Linked DNA regions of Homo sapiens: all the other regions are linked to region 3. Evidence: fine-mapped expression QTL. A gene starts in region 3. Each other region holds a variant in brackets. All regions are shown on one strand. Distances are from middle to middle.

Region 1 (8,270 bases), 160 kb after region 3:
CAATATAGATATTTCCATGATTATTATCTCAAATTAACATATTGGTAAGAGAAGCCTTCACCGTCCTGGGCACTCGATCCATGGGTGAAAGCCTTCAGTAACGGTGAATGTTATTTTCATTTTGCTTGGCTTAACCAAATGGGGACCTTGGAGTAAAAAAAGTAAAAAGATGAGCCCAGAGAGAGGCTGGCAGTGGAGAGGCGGAGGGCGAGCCACAAAATTAGAGGCGGTCCGTGCTGGAAAGGCCCTTTGGAGATAATCTCACCACCCTCCGTGGGCGGGAAAGAAAAACAAACGGGAGCCGTCTGAGATTTATGACTCTTACCTGCGGCGGAGATCCTCTGCCACCGCTGCCCGGCAGCTGAACAAATAGGCTCGGAGCGACTTCAGCCGCTGCCGCAGCCGCAGCACGGCGGCCAGCGGCTCTGCGTGGTGGTACAGCATGGCGTTCTCCTGCTGGATGTCGATGAGCGGCTCTTCGTACACGTACTCCAGAAACTCCTTGGCCTGCTTCGACACCTACAAAACAAGCGTCGTCAGTCAGTCCTGGAGAAGCACCTGGCTCTCCACACCTGCTCAAACTAGGAACCATAGCTGAAATATCAAAGGAACACGATTATTTTCTCAATACAGACAAATGAAAAAGTCTGTAGTTGAATTAAATGTAAATTTTGACTTCTCTCTCTTCCAGACATTCAACTGTAAGCTAGGAAGGAATTTATTAATTCTGTATCTTGACTGCAGTGGTGATTACAGGAACCTACACATGTGACAGAACGGCACAGTATGGTGCCGTTATACTGACTTATTATACCAATGTCAACTTGCTGTTTTTGTTTTTGATATTGGACCTTAGTTGCCTAAGATGTAGCCAAGGGAGGAAACTGTGAAAGGTACACAGAACCTCTCTGAATTGTCTATGCAATTTCCTGTGAATCCACAATTATTTCAAAATAAAAAAGGAATTAAGAAGACTGTTTTAACACAAATGCTGATTTTTAAAAACGTCATAAATTTATATGTGCATATATATGTATGAATATTCCATAACACTTTTGAAAAGTAGCCACTTAAAAAATAGGTAAATCAAGGCCGGGTGTGGTGGCTCATGCCTGTAATCACAGCACTTTGGGAGGCTGAGGCGGGCAGATCACTTGAGGTCAGGAATTTGAGACCAGCCTGGCCGACATGGCGAAACCCCGTCTCTACTAAAAATACAGAAATTAGCCAGGCGTGGTGGCACATGCCTGTAATCCCAGCTACTTGGGAGGTTAAGGCGGGAGAATTGCTTGAACTCAGAAGGCGGGGGTTGCAGTGTGCCCAGATCATGCCACTGCACTCCAGCCTGGGCAACAGAGCGAGACTCCATCTAACAAACAAACAAACAAATAAAAAGACTAAATCATGTACATATTACAACATTCAAAAAGGATAAAAGGATATTATTTGCAGAATAATCTGACTGACTAGCAAACAAGCTCAAATATACTGCTTCAGTGACCAGAAAGGAGTTGCTCTTATTACAACTTTGAACTTCAGCTAACTCCAGCCAATATATCCATCCAATTCTGTATTCACCTTGAGTGGTAATCCACGGTAATCCACAAGACTATGAAAGTTCATTTTATAATGTCATTGTCATCAGTAGAAACAAATAGTACATGGAAACACAATGTCTCAGAGATACAGAGGGAGTGGCTTAAATAATGCATAACATGAGGGTAATTTTTCAGAATCTCTACATACCAATCACTGACAGTGAGATGTAGATTGGCTACTAATACATAGAAAGTTGGCTCAGTTTCTATTTATGGAAGATAAAACCTCTCTAAAAACTTTCCATTAAAATCTCTCTAGGAGCAAGGTTAGAATTCAACATTAAAATAAACAAAAAACTTTGCTTATTAAAAAGAAAAAAAAATCTATGTTTCATATGGTAGGCTAGAAGTATATTAATAAAGATATATAGGATACAGTTCCTTCCCTCAAGTGGCTCACTGTGTAGTATGAGACAAGTATTTAAAACAAAACCACATGTAACATGCAGCATGTACCCTGTCATCTGCTACAAAAGAGGTATGGATGGGGCCCACTGGTAGCTTAGAGGAAGGAGAAATCAACTCTCCTGGTGGGGAGAGGGTTGGCAAAGCAGGTGGCACTTGGATCTGGGTGTAGAAGATAAACAGAAATTCACTTGGTGAACAAATGTGGGACAGAATAGAGTACAACAGGCAGAAACAAACATAAAAACCCCTCTGTATGTATATGTCATAATTAAATGTATGGCTATTATATGTTGATTATAAATTTCTCGTACATAAACATAAAATTCAATATGATCATTTTCTTATATTGCAAAGCTTATACCAAAGTTTATGTTCTTTATAGGAATGCAAAAAAATACATCATTTAAAAAATAAACTTCTAATTTTTTTCCTTATAAGCAATTATTTTTGAGGTACCTGTTGTGTTGTGTGATCCTATAGCATCCTGCAGAGTTAGAGTTACAGAATTAGAGAAGTTTACAGTCTCTGAAAATCACAAAAAGGCACCTAGAATTAGCCAAAATCTTCAACTATCTAACCAGATTGGAAATAACAGTTATTCCTCACTTTTATTTTTGAGGCATCTATTAATAGACACAGGTACATGCCAGATACTGTAGCAGGCATTAGGCATTCAGTGGAGAATAAAACAAACATGGCCCTGTCTTTAGGTATAATAGCCCACAGTTCAGTGGGAAAGAAAGACTTGGGTTTAAATATTTTATTTATCATGATTAAATATTTGTGATATTTAAATATCTTAAAATGAGGAAAAGACTGATGGTGTTTTGGGAAATGAAGTACAACCCACTTGAAACTGTTGCTGAAAAATGATGTATTGTACAATTCAATTAGTCTTTCTGGCTCTGTTGAGCAGTGTTTATATGGAGTCAGGGCCCTGCTGAATTAGGTTAACAATGCTACCTTTTAGTAGGTGAACAGAGCGACAGAGGGCACTGGCCAGTCTCCCAGGCCTTAAAAGGCTTCTCTCTTCAGGTGGTACTTAAGCCCGAAAGGAAGAAAAAAATCTTTTACAGAGAAAGTAAAAGCAGTGAGACAAATGGAACAGCAGCCACTGACATCAGTATTCATAAACTGAAATTACAAAAAACAAAAACAGAGCTCGTTTCAACCATGTCGGAGGCGCTGCCTTCACCAGTTGTTACTAGCAGTAGGCATATGGTGCACATCGCTACCGCTGCTGCCTGAGTACATGAACAAATCCCCACCACGTTCAGCCATTTTTGGCAGCAAGGCTGAGCACATGCACTCATTTTTGAGAATCAGCCACTAATAATCGGTGAGGGAATTTTTGAGAGAACTCAAAATCTGGCATGGCCTACTATTTTTGCAAAATAGAGCATTGTATCCCCACTGATTTCCTAAGTTCTAAATGACCCTCCACACTGGCATGAGGATTGTACTCTCAAACTCAACTCGAATTAAAAATGTTAAAAAAAAAGTTACTTAGGAACAAAAGCCAAAGATATTCTTAGGTGATAAAGTTTATGTGAGAAAAAGTTTTTTTGTTAATATAAATATTTCATGAATTATATGTGAACACTGACTATGTTCCAACTAAGAGCTAAGAGCTACTGTCCTACTTCTTGCCAACCAAACTATGAAAAACCTAAAAAGCCTGCTGCCATTTCTGATGTAAAGAAAAATTCAGCTGATAGTCAGGTGCAGATGAATGAGCTCAAATGAATGGTTTCGGCTGGCACTCTTTTCCATGATACCACTCCATTCACATTAGTATTAGTATTGACCTATTAGTATTTTACCAAATAATATTTAATATTTATTAATTATATTCCTTCTATTCATATGAACGAATTTCTTTCCATAGCTTTTGTAGCTTATAAACAGAACAGTTTAAGCTATAAGAACTCAACTCTGTGACAGTGATTGTGCTGCAGTTTGTGAACTGATTCTTTCTTCACAACCCTGCCATCTACATGATTCAAGAGAGATGAGAAGGAGGAATCCAAGAGGAAAGAGGCCTCCTCCCCTACCTCACATTCAGGAGGAGGTGGAGAAAATGGTAAAATCACATTATGATTAGCTACAAACTAACAATGATCAGATCTGCTATTTACACATATACATTTATAAGTAAACACATGTCACTTGATTTGAACATTATTAAGTGTCATCAGTATAGATTCGAACATAATACGACTTTTGTTACGCTAGTGACAGCCACTTCTTAAAAACAAAGTTCTTGAATGTTGTTCAGGTTTGCGTAATCCTGAGGGAGAGTGTTCTGGTATGCTCCC[C/T]CACAAAAATAGCCCCTGGTGATAACGTAATGGGGCAAAGGGAATGTTTAACCATAGATAGCAATTTGGAGACGACATGGTATTATGGTGGTGGTAGTGTGGACTTTGTTTTTATTAAAGGAGGAAAATGTATCAGAATAAAACACGAATAAGAAGGACTTGTAGAATAACAAAGACTAGTAAAGATAATCTAATTCAATTTTTCTCAGCTTGTGTTCCAAGGAACACTAGTCCCACAAAAAAAGACGTTTTAAGGTCCAATAAGATGTATGCCACACACCACTTTGTTTCCTTGGAGATTCAAAGTACAGCATGTTTGCATATTAAAACTGAGACATCTTGTACCGAAGAAAACCTGCTTAACCCAGCCACTTCTCAAAGCTATTTTACTACAGACAGGGCAGCTGTTGAGTGCTGCACATGATGCATGGGCGGTGGGAGTGTGGGAGATAAGATCCAGCCCGGACCCCCACTCACCAACCAGAAGAAAGGGCGTCTTTCTCTACCTTGCTGCATCCTCTTGCTAAGCTGTGAGTTTGCTGAGCTGTGTTCTGGAGGGGCTCTTTTCCAATTCCCATAAAGCTGGCCTAGCTGTGGCCCTCCTTTTTGCGTAACACCTACTAACACGAAAGAATTTGGTAATGCTCCATGGAATACACTTTGAGAAACACTGAACTAATCCACTGCCTGTATTTAATAGAAGAGAAAATTGAGTACAAAGAGCATAAGTAACTTATTTGTGGTCATGTCATGGTAGAATTAGAGCCACAACTCAGATCCCTGGAGACTCTGCTCTGTGCTTTTTAGCATTGTTTATATTCACAATTCTTATTTTTTAATAATGTTACCATACTCTATCAGCTTATCACTTCATAAAAGAGTTTTCCTGTCCCTTCTCCATCTTACAGCAAGTAGGCTACAAATGAAGACTAATCTATAATGTAATTAAGCAGGACACTGACATGTAGGATCCCATTTGATTTTAACTTTAAAATAAAACTGAAGTTCAATAACATTTCATTTATACAAAAGTTACTTATTTGTGCAATTTATTTTATTTTATTCTATTTTAGAGACAAGGTTTTGCTCTGTTACCCAGGCTGGCTGGAATGCAGTGGCATGATCATAGTTCACTGTAACTTCGAACTTCTGAGCTCAAGGGATCCTCCCACCTCAGCCTCTGGAGTAGCTAGGTAGGACTACGTGTGCATGACACAAGGCCTGGTTAATTTTTAAATTTTTTGTAGAGATAGGGTCTTGCTGCTGCCCAAGCTGGTCTCAAGCAAATCCTTCTGCTTCAGCCTCCAAAAGCACTAGGATTATAGGCACGAGCCACTGCGCCCAGTCTATTTGTGTATTTTTTTTACTGTCTTTCTCCTTTCACTGGAATAAGAGCATCCATAAGGGCAGAAACTATATCCCCAGTGCCTAGAACAGTGAGCACAATAAATATCCAATAAATACTTGTTGAACAAATGAATGAATAATTTACAATGCTCTGGCCACAACTTTGAAGCATACACTCTTGCTTTAGACATAGTTCCTACAGCTTGGTTATTTGTTTCTAAGTTCATAACATATTTAGAGTCCATAAAGAAGAAAAGATAGCTAGAGGCAGCATGGATACAACATAAATGACAGCTGACATCCTAGCACCAGGGGAAGAGAGGCACCTACAGGAAGCTACAAGGTGAAAACAAAGAGCATACGACCCTAATTGAGGGCAACTTGGCACTATCCATCAAACTCACAAATTGTACATGCCTATATCTAGGAAGTTATCTACAGATAGTTTTGCTTATCAATGAAAAAAAATTATATTCAATATTATGTAAAAAGTTATTCATTGAATTACTGTCTATAATAGCAAAAGACTGGAAAAATCTAAATGTCCACCAAAAAAGAACTGGTTAGATAAATTAGTGTGTGTGTGTGTGTGTGTGTGTGTGTGTGTGTGTAAATATGCATGTAAAATTCATGAAATATTTTAAAAAATGCAAGGAAGAGTTTTATTATCTAAATGGAAAGCTCTCTAAGCACAGGGTATATACTATATTGTCATTTTTGTATGAAAAAATACATGTACATAAAATATCTCTGGAAGGATACACGAGAAAGGAGTGTTTTGGTTGCCTCTGAGAAGAATGGGGTGAGTAAAAAGGAGATTATTTATGTATGTACGCACGCCCCCTTTTACTTTTTGAACCTTGAACTTTCTGAAAGTATACTGTATTCAAAAAAGAAGAATGAATAAAATATAGCAGTGCAAGGCATTTAGGGAAAAACAGCCTCACTTATCCCATTAAACTCTCAAGTTATCTATCACAGGACAGAACAATCATTTACATTTATAATTCTGGTCCAGGCACAGTGGCTCACGCCTATAATCCCAACACTTTGGGAGGCTGAGGCAGCAGGATTGCTTTAGGCCAGGAGTTTGAGACCAGCCTGGGCAACATAGCAAGACTTTGTCTCTACCAAAAACTAATTTAAAAATTAGCCAGGTGTAGTGGCGTGCGCCTGTAGTCCCAACTACTCAGGAGGCTGGGGTGGGAGGAATGCTTGAGTGCCAGAGTTCAAGGCTGCAGTGAGTTACAGTCATGCCACTGCACTCCAGCCTGGGTAACAGAGCACGACACTGTCTCTAAAAAAAAAAAAAAAAATTCCAAGGCATTAAAAAAGTTAACTTTTAATATACATTTTCTTAAATAAAATATGACAGTTAAAATTTATAAAATTATAAAAGTAATATAATCCCATTACTGAAAATTTGGAGAATAAAGATCAACAGAGGAAAAAATATCTATAATCTTACCACCGTAAAATAACCTTATTGCTTTGGTAAAACATTTCCTTCCTGTGTTTATTCCCATCTCTATCATAAAAATTCATAGCCAAAATCATAATAAAATCAATTCTAACGGTAATACTTCTTAGTCCTGTTAAAACAGTCAGTGGGCTAATGGAGGAGAAATTAGGAAACCTTCAGTTTAATTACAATTTGTTCTCAGAATCTCCAAATGACTCTGATCAAGAGGTTTTTCCCATCAGTGAGCTTTTCCTCAGCTCCACAAGGGCAGTAGAGCTTGCCTTGAATACCTCTCAAGATGTAGAAATAGGAAATGGTTTATGTAACATGGAAAACCCCTAGCTAAATGGAATGTGAATATTCAAGCTAGGATACAAATAAATTTTTTTAAAACAAAACTAAGGGGAACTATTTGGAAGAGTTAGGGTTGTTTGATTTCCTTAACATCTCTTTGCTACGCTTGATATTTTTGATTAGGGGGATAGGGAAAGTTATCTTCAAAGAGATTTTATTAGAAAATGGCTATAGAAATTGAGGATAGGGTTTAGCGCTTCCTAATCTTGGAGCTCAATTCAATCTTCAGTATAACACCAGAAAATAGACGAAATCCTGCTTTAAAAATAATTAGGATTATTAATACTCCAGAGGGCAGGCCAGGAAATGCTTAAGATGACAGATTTCATTCTGTTCTGCAAAACCATTTTTTTACTCTTTTAAATGGCTATTCAAGCCAGTCACGTACTTGCTATTAAGGACAGCAGGCAGATCTAACAGAACGATGTCTGGTCTTGGAAACTGATAGGTCTGAATTGATCCTCACAATTAGGAGAATTAAGTTAAATCCTGATATCTGAGAAAAGACAGCCAGACACTGGACTAAATGGAATATAGTTACTTAATGCCAATGAGAGATGATCCAGATAAAATCCACCAGGTCCACTTTTGCTTTAAAATCTTCCTTGGTCCACTAAGAACTTGGGAAGGAGTGGTCTGACAAAGGAGATTTTCCTCATGTGCAACACGGATGAAGCGAGTGTACCTAATATCTTCAATTGCCTAGCTATCCTCTCAAAATCAAATCTAATTACTTGAATGACCACCAAAACAAAACATCCTGCTTTACAGAGAGATTTTAAG
Region 2 (8,270 bases), 61 kb before region 3:
GGAGAAGGAACTGATTGCTTTGAAGATGCAGAATCTCACAGCCTTGAGGGAATCAAAGAAATTCATAGGCACTCTGAGGCTCAAAGACTGAATAGAGGTTTATCAGATGGCCAGAGCAGGGCAGCTACTGAGTTCCCAACTCTTTAGATCTTGAAGCTAACACTATGGCTGCAAAGAACAGGACAGGTCCAGTTTGGACACTCTAGCTTCAATTGCTCCTGTGAGCTCAGAGTTTTTCTTTTTCTTTCCTGAGCAAAGCATTGATTACATAACCAGAATTTTTTTTTTTTTTTTTTTTTTTGAGACAGAGTCTCGCTCTGTCACCCAGGCTGGAGTGCAGTGGCGCGATCTTGGCTCACTGCAAGCTCCGCCTCCCAGGTTCACGCCATTCTCCTGCCTCAGCCTCCCGAGTAGCTGGGACTACAGGCGCCCACCACTGCGCCCAGCTAATTTTTTGTACTTTTTAGTAGAGACGGGGTTTCACCGTGTTAGCCAGGATGGTCTCGATCTCCTGACCTTGTGATCCGCCCGCCTCGGCCTCCCAAAGTGCTGGGCAGAATTTTTTTTTAATAAGAGCATTCATGGCCGGGTGCGGTGGCTCATGCCTGTAATTCCAGCACTTTGGGAGGCAGAGGTGCGTGGATCAATTGAGGTCAGGAGTTCGAGACGAGCCTGACCAATATGGTGAAACCCCATCTCTACTAAAAAGTACAAAAAAGTTAGCTGGGCGTGGTGGCACACACCTGTAGTCCCAGCTACTCGGGAGGCTGAGGCAAGAGAATTGCTTGAACCCAGGAGGCGGAGGTTGCAATGAGCCAAGATTGTGCCATTGTACTCCAGCCTGGGCGACAGAGTGAGACTCCATCCAAAAAAAAAAATGTATTCTATTTCATCTGTGTGTTGAAAAGAAACAGCTCATGGAGTGTGTGGCATTATTCAATGTAGACTCATCAAACAAGCACCCTATAGAAGCAAGGTCTGCTCAGCACAGGAGACAAGGACCTATTCCCAATAAAATTCAATCTAAGTAGGTATTTTGTTTGTTCATTTGTTTTAATGTGCTTTCTATACAAACATATCGCTTAAGACTAGTTTCCTGGGCCCTATATCCATCCAGATTGCTGTCCTAATCCCTTCTGATAGAAAATTTCTAGAGGTACTTAAGGGTAGACTGCATGCTGTGAGGATAAAAATAGAGTTGTCTTAACAATAGGGCAATAGAGCCATCATGAGAAAAAGATGACGTCCTAAAATCTATGAGCTTTGTTTCTAGGGGACAAATCTGGTTCAAAAGACTTCCTCAAACTTTTCCCTGCTGTCAAGTTTAATGCAATTCCTCCTCCTCCTCCAGTTTTGTCTTTCTAATGTCAGCTTGATTTGAGAAGGTACCTGTCAAAAAGGCTACTAGAATAACCTGGTGGGAATGTGTTAAGCCATTGCAAGAAAATGGTTCCAGCTGGCCGGGTGTAGTGGCTCACGCCTATAATCCCAGCACTTTGGGAGGCTGAGGTGGGTGGATCACCTGAGGTCAGGGGTTCGAGACCAGCCTGGCCAACATGGTGAAACCCCGTCTCTACTAAAAAAATACAAAAAATTAGCCGGGTATGGTGGCACATGCCTGTAATCCCAGCTACTCAGGAGGCTGAGGCAGGAGAATCGCTTGAACCTGGGAGGCGGAGGTTGCAGTGAGCCGAGATCGTGCCATTGCACTCCAGTCTGGGCAACAAGAGCAAAACCCTGTCTCAAAAAAAAAAAATTTTTGCTCTGTCCCCCAGGCTAAAGTGCAGTGGCGCTATCTTGGCTCACTTGAACTCCGCCTCCCGAGTTCAAGAGATTCTCCTGCCTCAGCTGGAATTACAGGCGTCTACCACCATGTCCAGGTAATTTCTGTATTTTTAGTAGAGATGGGGTTTCTCCATGATGGCCAGGCTGGTCTCAAACTCCTGACCTCAGGTGGTCCGCCGCCTCGGCCTCTCAAAGTGCTGGGATTACAGGCATGAGCCACCAGACCTGGCTAGTTTATTTATTTATACTTGTGTTGTTCCCAGATTAATTTTGTAGTAAGTTTATTTCCTGAGCAAGTGTAGATGGCAGCTCTCTTATAAAACTAAGTAACTGCAAACAACATGTTGTTATAGTCATTGGAACTGGGAGTGGAGCAGGCATTTGCTTAGAAAACCAGGAGCCTGAACAGACACTTCCGGAAAAAAAAAAAAAAAGGATCTTCCACCCCCACTAGGAGGTGATCTGAGGAAGTCTAGCAGTGGGCTGAAAAGGCTGGGTAAGATTTTAGACCTTTTGCAGCACCTAGGCAAATGAAACTGGAAGCAAATACACCAGTTTATAAGGAGGAGAAAAGAGCCCAGGAAGGCAAAAGGAAGCTCCTAGTCTCTCTTAAAACTGCAAGCCCTTCCTAGAATTTGTCTCATAAAATACCCTGATGTTTGGAACTGTAATCACAGTGAAAATTTGGGGCAAGAACTGACCTGTCCAATGAGCATTATCTGCCCTGGTGATATGGCAAACTAACACCCTTCTCGTTTTTTTTTTCAGAGCATCATTTCTCATAAATTAGCTTTCTCATCTCAACTGACTCACTTGGCAGAAACAAATCTACATGGTGTAGAAGAGAGAAGGCAGGGGAATAGTTCAGAAGGAGTGAAAAGAGATAAGTGAAGAGATAAGTGGAAGAAGGGCAGTTTACTAAATTAGAGGTACCAGCACCATCGTATGACGAATTTACTGAAAAATCCAGATTGGAATTTTTTGAAATCAGGAATGAGAGAAGTTGAGCTGTTCCACATCATATTAGGCATAACAGTAATTCTTAAAATTTTTGCCAAGAGCTACCTTTGAGGGTATGATGAAAACTATAGACCCTCTGCTGAGAAAAAAAATGTATATATGACTTACACACAAAATCCTATTATATTAGAACAACTAGTTATGATACCTGAGATGGAACCAATTAGTCACAACACACACACAATAAACTGTATATTCCTGATCTCTTGACTGTCATAAAATTGTTCTTGCATCTAACCTAAAGTCTCATTCTATAGTTTAATCCTCTCTGTACTTTTTCTGTCTTCTTAGCTTAAGAAAAGATCATTACAAATTCCTTGTTTTTCACATACTCTTGCAAAGGGCTATGAAATTTTATTGCTATTATTCTTTCTCGCTTTTTTTTTTTTTTTTTTTTTTTTTTGAGACGGAGTCTCTCTCTGTTGCCCAGGCTGGAGTGCAATGGTGTGATCTTGGCTTATTGCAACCTCCGCCTCCTGGGCTCAAGCAATTCTCCTGCCTCAGCCTCCCAAGTAGCTGGGACTACAGGCACGTGCCACCATGCTCAGCTAATTTTTTTGTATTTTTAATAGAGACGGGATATCACCATGCTGGCCAAGCTGGTCTCAAACTCTTGACCTTGTGATCCACCCGCCTTGGCCTCCCAAAGAGCTGGGATTACAGGCATGAGC[C/T]ACCATGCCAGGCCTGTTGTTATTCTGGTTTTAAACAGAAACTTCCTTAATTTTTCCTTACAGAATGTGGCAGAGAGTGCTAGTTGCCTTCCAATATCCGTTTCTTCCTTTTGTATTAGTCACCCTAGCTATATGACTATTGTTTTTTTTTTTTGAGCCTTCCCTGCAGCTAGGTATGGCTATGTGACTAAGCTTTAAGCCAATGATTTGTAAGCACTGTGCTATATGGGCCTTCCAAAATTTTTTCTTTCTTTTCTCTTTTTTTTTTTTTTTTTTGAGACAGAGTCTCACTCTGTCACCCAGGCTGGAGTGCAGTGGCACCATCTTGGCTTGCTGCAACTTCCACCTCCTGGGTTCAAGTGATTCTCCTGCCTCAGCCTCCCGAGTAGCTGGGACTACAGCTGCCACCATGTCCGGCTAATTTTTTTGCATTTTTTTTGGAGACGGAGTTTTGCTATGCAGCCCAGGCTAGAGTGCAGAGGTGTGATCTTGGCTCACTGCATCCTCCGCCTCCATGGTCCTGGTTCAAGCAATTCTCCTGCCTCAGCCTCCTGAGTAGCTGGAATTATAGGCAGGCACCACCATGCCCAGCTAATTTTTGTATTTTTAGTACAGACAAGGTTTGATCATGTTTGCCAGGCTGGTCTTGAACTCCTGACCTCATGATCCGCTTGCCTCGGACCTCCCAAAATGCTGGGATTACAGGTGTGAGCCACCGTGCCCAGCCTTTTTTTTTGTGTTTTTAATGGAGACAGGGTTTTGCCACGTTGGCCAGGCTGGTCTCGATCTCCTGACCTCAGGTGATCCACCCCCCGCTCAACCTCCCAAAGTGCTGGGATTACAGGTGTGAGCCACCATGCCCGGCCCCCAAATTTTTTCTTTCTTTTTCCTTCCTCCACCCTGCTGTCTGGAATGAAGACCCAATAGCTGGAGATCAATAGCCATCCTAGGCCATGAAGGTGGAGGTGATGGCCAATGTTGTCTGTTGACTCCCTTACTGGAAGTTTTGCAGGAACAGGAGCCTTTTTTTATCTTGGTGAAAGCAACATCCCCAGCACTTAAAAAGTATGTGACATGTGCTAAGAGCTCAGGTATTGAATGGATAGTGAACGTATGAGTTAACTCTGGACCTATATAAAGTCTCAGCTTCTTTCACAGAATCAAACTCTTGCTTAATTCAAAGCACATTCCTCCTACTTGCTTCCCTTTGCTCTCCCAGGCTTGCCACTGTTACAGAATTTTTTTTTCTTAATTCTCTCTAATATTCCCTTCATTCAAAATGTTTTAAAATCTATTTCCGTAACAATGCTTCCCAATATCTTCCTGGTTAGCAAGTTTTAAATTCTTCAGTTTTCAAGGTCGTAGATATCTATTTTTGTGTATGTCTGTTGTTAAATGCAGGCATTATTTTGTACCTTAAAATAGGCATCGTCTCAAGTCTACAAGAATCATCCAAAATGGTATCTAATGACATTCCTAGGGTTTCAGACAATTTTTTTTTTCTTTGAGACGGAGTCTTGCTCTGTCGCCCAGGCTGGAGTGCAGTGGACTGATCTTGGCTCACTGCAATCTCTGCCTCCCAGGTTCAGGAGATTCTCCTGCCTCAGCCTCCCTAGTAGCTGGGACTATGGGTGGACGCCACCATGCCTGGCTAATTTTTGTGTTTTTAGTAGAGACGGGGTTTCTCCATGTTGGTCAGGCTGGTCTTGAACTCCTGACCTCAAGCAATTCACCCGCCTCTGCCTCTCTAAGTGCTGGGATTACAGACGTGAGCCACCGCGCCCAACAAGAGCAAAACTCCGTCTCAAAAAAAAAAAAACAAAAAAAAAACAATCCCATTTTGCAGGTTTTATAGAAGAAATTGGGACGCAGAAGTTAAGTTACTTCCGCAAGCTTACATGACTGCTCAGGGTGAGGGTCCCTGATCATGATGATCAGAAAATAAAGGTAGAAATCAAGCTTAGGGAGGAAGTGACATTGTGTGTATATATATATATTTGTTTATTTATTTTTATTTTTATGTTTTATTTTTTTGAAACGGAGCCTAGGTCGCCCAGGCTGGAGTGCAATGGCGCGATCTCGGCTTACGGCAACCTCTGCCTCCCGGGTTCAAGTGATTCTCCTGCCTCAGCCTCCCGAGTAGCTGGGAATACGGGCGCGTGCCACCATGCCCGGCTAATTTTTTGTATTTTTAGTAGAGACGGGATTTCACCGTGTTAGCCAGGATGGTCTGGATCTCCTGACCTGGTGATCCGCCCGCCTCGGCCTCCCAAAGTGTTGGGATTACAGGCATGAGCCACCGCGCCCGGCCGGGATTGTTTTTAAGGGTTAAATAAATATACCACAGTTGGAACACTGTCTGGCACATAGTGCTTGCCAAATGGTAACTATTCATCTTCATGGAATCAAGACTGTGGTGCCCCACTGCATGGTTCTCAGTTTTGCGTGAGAAAATCGTGCTTTCTGTGCTGTTTTTAGTACAAGAAGAGAAACCTGGAAGTCCCTGCCTAGAGGAGAGAAACAGGCAAGAAAAGGGAGTTGGCGAGTCCCAGCATTTCAGAGTTGGCAGGGACGAGTTAGGTCCCTATTTTATGGATGAGGAAGTGGAAGGGTGACGTGTCCTCGAGTCTCATTCAAGACCCACAGCCACAACTCTTTATGGAGAGTAGGACCAGGGCCCCAGGGTTGCTATGATCACGTTGCAGGTGAAAACTAACGCTCATTGGAAGACAGGAGCGGAGCACTGAGTTACAAAAACAGTTAACAATTTGGGTGTAACCAAGTTTAGTGAGCAAACGAAAGCTGTCAGACTCGGAAGAAGAGTTGCTAATGGAGCGAACTCTTTACTAATAACGGCTTTCTACAGAGATCATTGACACAGCTTCCAGTTACAAATGCCCGTGCGCTTCCAGTAGGACCGGAAAGCTCCCAGCAGCCAGCGATGAATGAAAACCCGAGTCTGGGATAGCGGCGTGAGGGGCTGGGCAGCTGCCAGGCGGGGGCGGGGCAGCAGGTCACGTGCCTGGCTTCGAGGCGGGCGCCGGAGGGGGAACTCTGACCATGATTGGTTCCTCCTAACCAGGTGACCGCAGGTCGCGTTCCGGTTGGCAGGCACCGGCCAGGGCCAGCGGCCTTCAGTCGGTAGGCGGCGGCGGAAGGAGGAGGAGCTCCAGCCGCGCTCTCTCCCGGCAGTGGCTGTGCTTCACAGCGCTTGTTGGGTTCCCCACCCCTTTTAAATAAGCCGGGCTGGTCACCGCCCTCGCAGACGAGTCAGCTTAAGGGAGGCGGCGGCAGCGCGGCGGTGGGGGTGCGGCCGAGGCCCGAGCCCTGCCCGGGGCCGGGCCGCGGGGCGGGCGGGCGAACCGCGGGCGAGGCGGCGTCTGCTTGCGCGGTGCAGCCCCAGCGTAGCCCGGGGCTGCCGGTGCCGGCCGCGCCATTGTTGGGGGAGGGGGCGGCTGTTGAGGGCGGCGGAGTAGGGGGCGAGCGAAGGCGGTGGCAGAGAGGAGCGGAGGCTTCCCATGGGGAACACGCTGACCTGTTGCGTGTCCCCCAATGCCAGCCCCAAGCTGGGCCGGCGCGCGGGGTCGGCGGAGCTGTACTGCGCGTCCGACATCTACGAGGCGGTGTCCGGGGACGCGGTGGCGGTAGCGCCCGCTGTGGTGGAGCCTGCCGAGTTGGATTTCGGAGAGGGCGAGGGCCACCACCTGCAGCACATCAGCGACCGCGAGATGCCCGAAGGTAAGGAGGCGGCGGATGCCATCCGCCCTCGGGCTCACCTCTGCCCGCCTCCTCCCCCAGAGTCCCCCGGGAGGCATCCGCCGCCTCGGGCTCCTTCCTGCCGGTAGCCGGCCCCGGGACGAAGGCTGGTTCTGCCTCGCGTCCCCACCCCTTATTCTTGCCCTGCTGCGTCTGGCCAGTTTCTTTTCCTCCTCCTTACCGTAACGCCCAGTTCTTGCTCCCGCTTCCCATTCTCCCAAGCCGGCGTGGGACCCTCTAGTCCGCCGCCCTTCTTGTTTGTAGCTCTGTTCATTGTCTGGTGGGACTTTGCTAAGACTTTTGGGGTATATTGTTTTCCTTTTCTCAATGGAAACTCAAATACCTCAACTTCGGAGTACTCATCCCATTCCCTCCCTTAACCCATCCAGATGGTACCTAAGTGAAGGAACCAGGTAAGGGTCTGATTGTTCCTTCCTCCCATCCGTGAAGATAGCTGATGCCCGCGACAGTTTAGACCCAGATGTTTGAGGATTTCTTATCTAGACTCAAAATAGAGGTTGCCATAGGAGACACTATATGGTATTCCTAATAGGTTAAGTCGGCGTGAAAGAAGCTGCTTTATTCCTTCCAACTATAATTTGAACACAGAAAGAAAGAAAATGGGGGGAGGGGCGTAAAATGACTGTGAAGGGTGTGAGAGGTTATTACCAGGGGTGCAGACAAGTTGTTTTTTTGAGACGGAATCTCGTTTTGTCGCCCGCCCAGGCTGGAGTGCAGTGGCGCGATCTCGGCTCGCTGCAACCTCCGCCTCTCGGTTTCAAGCGATTCCTCTGCCTCAGCCTCCCGAGTAGCTGGGATTACAGGCGTGCGCCACCACGCCCAGCTAATTTTTGAATTTTTAGTAGAGACGGGGTTTCACCATGTTGGTCAGGCTGGTCTCTAACTCCAGAGTTCTTGATCCGCCCGCCTCGGCCTCCCAAAGTGCTGGGATTACAGGCGTGAGCCACCGCGCCCAGAGGTTGTTAACTCAAAGGAGTTTAGCCACGGAGTTCTGATTACTTTAAAATTCCCACGGTG
Region 3 (8,000 bases):
TGGAAATTTACTTATTAGAAGTATATCCATTTCAGTCCTTACATTTAAAAAGGAGCCCCCTTTAGCAACTGTCGCTAAGTATTGTCCAGAGGGAGTGGGTTTATACTTTTACCAAAATTATAACACAAGTTCCTTAAAAAAAAAAAAAAAAAAAAAAAAAGGGGATCACTGAAGCTTAAGAACCACCCACTACCTCTCAGGCACAAAGCTGCCATCTCACCAGCCTAAAATTCAAGCTCCACCAATCACCATCGCTTAGGCTCTCACTACTGCAAATATTTATGCCAGATCCTCTATAATGCTACCTCTAACTTATTCAAGACACAACGATGGTGCTGTTAGGAGTGAGAATTATTACAAGCACTACAGAAAAGAAACTGAACCTCCCTCTATAAACAAAGCTAAGGCTGAACACAAAACCGCTAAGCACTCCCTAACCTTGTCACTTTGGGGAGGCCCTGAGCTCATTATGCTCCCCTCCTAGGTATGACCTGGGGCTATAAACTGCAGCTCACCTTAAAGAATCATGGACACTTTAAGCAGTGGAAGGAGAAGCTGGCTGAAAAAGCACACCCAACAACTTCCCAGTCACAGCAACCGAAACGTTCACTGTTCACATTTTTTTTTAAAGACACACGTATAGGAAATATATTTTCCCAATTGAGACCACACAGTTCAAAGAAACCTGAACCAAGTGGAACTTCATTACAACGCCAACCTTAGGATTGTAAAGCCCCCAAAGCAAAGGTAAATTGTTGCCAAAATGCAACAAAGTTACAAATTAAGAAAAATACATATAAATTAAAAAGAGGGTTCCCATAAAGAAGGCAGTAAGAAACGCAAAATAGAATACACGTGAGCTGGGCCCCTTGGAGAAGACCTGGGACAGGTTCTTCCTCGAAAACGCCCCTCTTCCCTCTCTCCAAGTCGCCGCGGGAGGGGGCAACAGCACCATGAAGGTAAACGGAAGTGACCTTGGCAAAACTACCAAACAAAACGCCCCCCTCCCCTCAGCTCTCCGGCCGAGTCCCTCGGCGGCAGCCTCCTACACGTGCGACAGGGACACCTGCTTGTGGTAGGTGGCGGCGGGGCCCGGCGGCCCGGTCCTGCCTGTGAGCGCGGCGCTCGCCTCGGGGTAGTCCCCTGCGGCCATGGCGCCCCCGCTCTTGTGGCCGCGCCGCGGGCGGCAGCAGCAGCGGCTGGTGAAACGCCGCCACGACTCCACCGTCTTGCCCGACCAGATCCAGACGCCCGACGTGATGCCCACCACCAGGCACATGAAGTACTTGAGCATGAGCACCCAGTACTCGGGCTTGGCGCGCGGCTGGCCGGTGTCGTGGCCCGGGCAGGCGCAGGTGAGCGCCGCCTCCCAGCTCTCGCGGTAGTGCTGCTCGTACAGGTAGCAGGCCACCACAATGCTGGCGGGGACCGTGTAGAGCAGCGTGAAGATGCCGATGCGGATCATGAGCTTCTCCAGCTTGTCCGTCTTGGTGCCGCCCTGCTTGATGACGCTGCGGATGCGGAAGAGCGACACGAAGCCCGCCAGCAGGAAGAGCGTGCCCACCAGCAGGTAGAGCACCAGCGGGCCCAGCACGAAGCCGCGCAGCGAGTTCAGGTTCTGGTTGCCCACGTAGCAGATGCCGGCCACTGGGTCCCCGTCCACGGAGCTCAGCGCCAGTGCCGTGATGGACTTGACGCTGGGGATGAGCCACGCAGCCAGGTGGAAGTACTGCGCGTAGCCCGCGATGGCCTCGTTGCCCCACTTCATGCCGGCGGCCAGGAACCAGGTGAGCGACAGGATGACCCACCAGATGGAGCTGGCCATGCCGAAGAAGTAGACCAGGAGGAAGACGATGGTGCACAGTGCAGGGCCCGTGGTCTCGTAGTGGATGTGGTTGTGCTCGCGGCTGCAGGCCACGCTGGCATGGCCCACGACCAGACGCACCAGGAAGCCCAGCGACACGCACAGGTAGCAGGCTGACAGGAAGATGATGGGGCGCTCAGGATAGCGGAAGCGTTCCATGTCGATGAGGAAGGTGGCCACTGTGGTGGACGTGGAGATGAAGCACAGCACCGACCACAGGCCTATCCAGAAGGTGGCGAACGTGCGCTCGTCGGCACTGAAGGACGGCTGGTAGCAGGGTACCGCGCAGTTGGGCACCTGGCCCGTCCGCACCTTGTTGTAGAGCGGGTGTGACTCCTTCAGAATGGGCACGAAGGGCTCGCGACACTTGCACACGAACGGGCCCCCAGCGGGGCATTCGCCCCCCGAGGCCGGCGCCCCTGGCGGGCCTGGAAGGGTGGGCTTGGCTGGGAAAGGCCTGGGGGGCGCCGTGGTGGCCTCGCTGCGGTTGTAATCCATGCAGAGGACCTCGGCGTCGCGGCCCAGCACCGGGAGGCGGTCGCAGCTCATGCGCTCGGGCCAGGCGAAGCCGTACTGGCGCATCAGCGGCGAGCAGCCGGCCTTGGCGCGCTCGCACACCGAGCGGCAGGGCGGCAGCGGCTTGTGGTAGTCGGGCAGACAGATGGGCGTGTACATAGAGCATAGGAAGAAGCGCAGGTCCGGCGAGCATTGGATCTCCACCAGCGGCCAGAACTGGTGCACCTCCAGGCCCGCCTCGTCCTGCGTGTCGTGGTTGAACTGGTTGGGCATGTGCGTCAGGTTGTAGCCGATGCCGCGGCACATGGGCACCGTGATTTCCTGGCACACCGGGGCCTTGGACGCGGCGGCCGCCCGGCCCACCAGCTGCGCTAGGAGCAGCAGCAACAGCGAGGGCGGCGCGGATGGGTCAGGCCGAGCCATCGCCCCCTCCCTCCCCTCGCCTCCAGCAGCCCGCGAGGGACGCACACAGGCAGAGGAATCCGGGCCGGGGCTTCTCCCTCCGGCGTCTCGTGTGTGGCGCCGGGGCTGGCAACCTGTTGGTTGCTTTTTCCTTTAAAGAAAACCGTCCAAAGATAAACTGCTTCGGGAAGGCGCTGCCTCCGCTGGCAGCGCTCCGCTCCTCGCCGGATAGGGCTGGGGAGAGACGGTTAGGGCTCGGATTCCAGGGAAAGGACTCTTTAAAAAAGAAGGGGGAGAAGAAAGATTGCAACCACTCCCTGTTGGAGAGGCGTCAACAGTTCGGTCCCCGCGAGCTGTCTCCAAATCTCTTAAGTTAACCCCTTTCCTTTCCTCCCCGCTCCGCCTCCTGTAACCAAACTACCGACTCCCCCACCCTCTCTTTCCAAGCTGGGCCCTTCAGGCAGTGCCCGGAGACCAGAACCCTCAGCTTCCCGGAAAAGGGCACAGGAAACGGGAGAAGAACAGGGAGAAAGGGAAGGTTCTCACCTCCACGGATCCCGCCGAGAAGAGCAGACAGTCCCCAGCCAGCCTGGGTCCTCCGTCCCTGGGTCACTCCGCTGAGAAGCGCGACTCAGAGCCGGGCTGGCGCCCGGAAAGTTTAGCGACAGGCTGGGTACCCGTGGCAGCGGCACATGGCAGCAGGTGGGGGCGACTCAGAGTGGGGGGCGCCCCCAGAACAGGGGCGGCGCAGGCCGGTCACTCGCCCTCTCCTCCTCGGGAGCCCCCCGCATGATCCAGACGGAGCCGGGCAGGGGCAGGCCGTGCGTTCTCCCCGGGGCCGGGAGCCGGACGGAGGGCGAGCGCGCCTGGCAGCACCTGGGCGGGAGGAAGGCGGGAGGCGGGGGCCGTGGGACCCCGCCGCCTCACAGCACCGCGAGCAGCCGGCGCTGGCCAGGCCGGGACTGCATGGTGAGCGCCGGCCGCCGCGTCCCGCCCGCCGCTCGCCTCCTCCCCTGCAGGGGGCTCCGCGCTCCAGTGGACTCCTGGGGGCGGTGGCGACGCTCTCGGGACGTGCCCTGCTCGGCTCCTCCCCCGCGCTCTCGCACCCTTTCGCCCACCTCTGGCGAGCACGGAACCGCGCGCGGCGGCGACCACAGCGGACTCACGGCCGCAGGCTGGCTGCCCTCTCCCGCCCCGCCCGGGTCACCTGCTTCTAATGCCCGCCGGGAAGCCCCGCCCCGGCTCCGCCCCCTCAGGCCCGGGCGCGGTTGGTGGGCCGCCTCGCCAAGCTCTCCGCGCGTCCCCGCCCACTGCCCCGCGGGCTCGGCCTTTCCCCCGGCGCCCTCTGGCCCCGCCAGGAGCGGGCAGCCAAGGAGCGCTGACCAATCGCGGGCCTGGAGGAGATGGGGGCGGGGCGAATGCTAATCATGCCGCTCTGGGCACCCGGGCGGGAAGCCCTTGCCAGAAGTCCCTCCGGAGTTCTCTGCCCGCGCCCTGGGTGCAGGACTCGCTCCTGTAACTTCCTGGCTTATGCACCTTTGCTCCCAGGGCCCCTGCCCTTTCTGCCTGCAGCTAAGCGTCCTTACAGAGTTCAGTGCTTCTTTGAAAGAACTGCTCAAGGAATCACTCTTAGGCGTGGCTGTCTCCCTTCCGAGCTGTCTTGGAACTGTGTGAAAGAAGAGAGGATACTTACTGAGCCCTTTACTGTGTGCCCAACAAAGTGTTAATCGGTTACATCCTTTTTTTTTTTTTTTTTTTTTGAGACGAGTTGTTCTGTCTCCCAGGCTGGAGTGCAGTGGCGCGATCTCGGCTCACTGCAACCTCTGTCTCCCGGGTTCAAGCGATTATCCTGCCTCAGCCTCCTGCGTAGCTGGGATTACTGGCGCCCGCCACCACGCCCAGCTAATTTTTGTATTTTTGGTAGAGACGGGCTTTCACCATGTAAGGCTGTTCTCGAACTCCTGACACCGTGATCTGCCCGCCTCGGCCTCCCAAAATGCTGGGATTACAGGTGTGAGCCACCGCGCCCGGCCCGTTTACATCTTAAGACAAGATCTCACTCCTTACAACAATTCTGAGGCAGGTACTTCCTACAGGTGAAGAAACCGAGACTGAGACTTGGCCAAGGCAACCGAGCTAATCATAGTTCCCCCAAGAAAGGGCGACCTCGGCAAGCAAGTTCACCTCCGTATTCCGATCACCTGGCACATAGTAGCCGCCCAAATGGCAACCCTGGGATTCGAACCCAGGTAGTTGGTCAGCGGCACTCACCATCGTAGCCGCCCCTCCCCCCATACTATCGCAGCCTCCCTGGCTTCGACCTTTACTTTTGCATCTCTTAACAAAATCTTGTTGTGACAAGAAAATGGATTTCTTTCTGCCTTTAGAAGACCCAGAAAGATGTGAGTCCTTTATTGGTCGAGGTTTATAATCCCAGGCAGTTCCGAAGTCGCCCGCAGAGAGAAGCGATACCGACCCAGGGTTCTGTGCTGGGCAGGGCGCCGGCCTCCCCGTGCCCTTCCGTCCCCGGCTGCCTGCTGCTAAGCCGCGCACTTGCGCGCCGCGGGGGGTCGGAGGGCGCACCGATGGCGGGGACACGGCGGCGCTCTTCAGTTGCGCAATTATGCTACAAGTTTTAAATGTCCTAAAAATGCCTCTTTTCTATGTGTTGTAATTAGATTGGAAGACTGAGGTATTTAGCATACTTGAAATACATTCACACGCCTAGGAAGAGGGTTTAAATTTTTTCCTTCTCCCCAAACTTTTCCTTCCACTGGGCAAAGGGCGAAAATAGGCAAGAGGGCCTGGGGACACTTGAAGGGATAGGGACTGGACTAACTGGACTAGATCCAGATCAACCGCGGGTTACTGTCCATCTCCTGTGCTGGATCCCATTGGCACAGGTTGGAAGAATAAATTGCGGAAGTGCCACTCCCCTCCTGCGTATCAACAACGCTTTGTGGGCAATAATGAAGAACACGTGTGTTAATCCCAGCCTCCAAGTTAAAAAGGAACAAATATCAATCACTTCGCGGATATCAAAACTATTAATAAACGTTTAAAAGGCCGGGCGCCATAGCTCACGCCTGTAATCCTAACACTTTGGGAGGCTGAGGTGGGAGGATGGCTTGAACCCAGGAGTTTGCAGACCAGCCTGAGCAACATAGCAAGACCCCCAACTCTAAAATACATAATTAAATAAATGAATAAATATACCTTACATCTTTCTTTCTCTGGAATTCTACAGGTGTTCATATTTTATCTCTTGTGTTTTGGAATTACTTGCCACTCTGGGTCAGGAAGCATCCCAGGGTTGAAAATAGTGGGAGTTGAAAAGCTGTGGGCATAGCAGTGAGCAAGAAAGGGAAGCCCTCAGTGGAAAGTATGTGCAGACTATGAACATGCCAAGGGAGGCCCATCTCATTCTGTGCTCTTTATGCAACGTGTGTATTACTGGGGATGGACAAGTGTTGGCTAATAATAAAAATTATTTGAAGTTGGAGAATGTTAATCACTCACACTGGAATTTAGCCAGAATATTTGTGTTATTTCACACGGTTCTGTCAGAGGCATTTGAACCAGAGCGACTCCATCTTGGATAGGGACTGGGTAAAATAAGGCTGAGACCTACTGGGCTGCATTCCCAGGAGGTGAAGACATTCTAAGTCAACAGGGTGAGATAGGAGGTCAGCACAAGATACAGGCCATAAAGACCTTGCTGATAAAACAGGGCGCAGTAAAGAAGCCGGCAAAAACCCAGCAAAACCAAGATGGCCAGGAGAGTGACCTCTGGTCGTCCTCACTGCTTATTGTAACTTAATTATAATACATTAGCATGCTAAAAGACACTCCCACCAATGCCAAAGCAGTTTACATTTTACAGATGCCATGGCAACCGTCAGGAAGTTACCCTGTATGGTCTAAGAGGGGGAGGAACCCTCAGTTCCGGGAATTGCCCGCCCCTTTCCCGGAAACTCATGAATAATCCACCCTTTGTTTAGCATATGATCAAGAAATAACCATAAAAATGGGCAACCGGCGGCCCATGCCGCTGCTCTGTCTATGGAGTAGCCATTCTTTATTCCTTTCCTTCTTTTTTTTTTTTTTTTTTTTTTTTTTTGACAGTCTTGCTCTGACGCCCAGGCTGGAGTGCAGTGGGGGTGCAAGCTCGTCTCACTGCAACCTCTGCCTCCTAGGTTCAAGCAATTCTTGTGCCTCAGCCTCCCAGGAAGCTGGGATTACAGGCCTACGCCACAACACCCTGCTATTTTTTGCATTTTTAGTAGAGTCGGGGTTTCGCCATGTTCACCAGGCTGGTCTGGAACTCCTGGCCTCAAGTGATCCGCCCGCCTCGGTCGGACTCTCAAGGTGCTGGATTACAAGCATGAACCACCTCGCTCGGCCCTTTCTTACCAAACTTGCTTTCACTTTACTCTATGGATTCGCCCGGAATTCTTTCTTGCATGAGATCCAAAAACCCTCTCTTGGGGTCTGAATCAGGACCCTTTTCCAGTAAAGGTTCTGAAGAAAACAATGTTATCTACTGGTTTGTAAACCTTTTCTTCATCAACAGCAAAATCTTAATTTTACTTGGAGATCTCTAATAATAATAGTGATAGCAGAGAACTTTATGGAAAGAAACTTATTTCAGCTGGGCAAGGTGGCTCATGCCAGTAATTTCAACGCTTTGGGAAGCTGAGGCAGGAAGATCACTAGGGCCCAGGAGTTCAAGACGAGCCTTGGCAATATAGTGAGACCTCATCTCTAAAAAAAAAAAAAAAAAAAAAAAAAAGGAGAGAGCAAGACATTTTATATCGTATATGTTTTTGTATTGTATTGTGTTGCTTTTTGTCTATATTTTGAAGGCACTTTAAAATATGCTGGCTGTTTAACATGTATTAGGCAGGGTGCTAGACGTCGTTTAATCCTCAGATGAAGAAACTGGTGCTATAATGACTTTGATGACTTGCTTGAAGTTATTTATTTAGTCTATGGAGTCAAAAACTTTCACACACCGTGATGATGACAGTTCAGTAACAACATACTGTAAATGAAAATTGCTAAGAGAGTAGATTTTAAGTGTTCTCACCACACAAAAATAATGAAAAATATGTAGAGGTAATGCATATGTTAATTAGCTCAATTTACCCATTCTAGAATGTATACATATGTCAGAACATCATGTGGTACATCATAAATATATACAATTGTTATTTGT

Direction of the effects. Positions count from the first base shown, and alleles are read on the strand shown. Sizes are in standard deviations (SD) of each study's normalised expression. Not every link is listed here.
In carriers of allele C in region 1, the expression in tibial artery of the gene that starts at base 3,970 in region 3 tends to be lower than with T alone (large effect, 0.81 SD a copy in GTEx).

What was found.
Region 1: its variant is fine-mapped to the expression of FZD5 in tibial artery (GTEx, PIP above 0.99).
Region 2: its variant is fine-mapped to the expression of FZD5 in whole blood (INTERVAL, PIP 0.90).

The regions. Positions count from the first base shown.
Region 1 is chr2:207,930,601-207,938,870 of GRCh38, forward strand. PLEKHM3 (pleckstrin homology domain containing M3) reads right to left here. Exons shown (of 8, transcript NM_001080475.3): 5 at 326-519. Among named protein-coding and RNA genes, the nearest start is that of PLEKHM3, 91 kb to the right of the region's middle. The variant C/T (reference allele first, on the strand shown) is at 4,325.
Region 2 is chr2:207,704,903-207,713,172 of GRCh38, forward strand. CCNYL1 (cyclin Y like 1) reads left to right here and starts at 6,738. Exons shown (of 10, transcript NM_001330218.2): 1 at 6,738-7,214. The coding sequence starts at 6,995. RefSeq lists enhancers at 5,930-6,129, 6,140-6,189, 6,542-7,538 and silencers at 6,410-6,859, 7,280-7,389, 7,402-7,561. The variant C/T (reference allele first, on the strand shown) is at 3,477.
Region 3 is chr2:207,765,937-207,773,936 of GRCh38, forward strand. FZD5 (frizzled class receptor 5) reads right to left here and starts at 3,970. Exons shown (of 2, transcript NM_003468.4): 1 at 3,329-3,970; 2 at 1-3,058. The coding sequence starts at 2,803. The coding sequence ends at 1,046. RefSeq lists silencers at 1,155-1,214, 2,721-2,780, 3,191-3,250, 3,591-4,270, 6,327-6,802 and enhancers at 1,249-1,805, 1,806-2,363, 4,821-4,870, 5,035-5,855.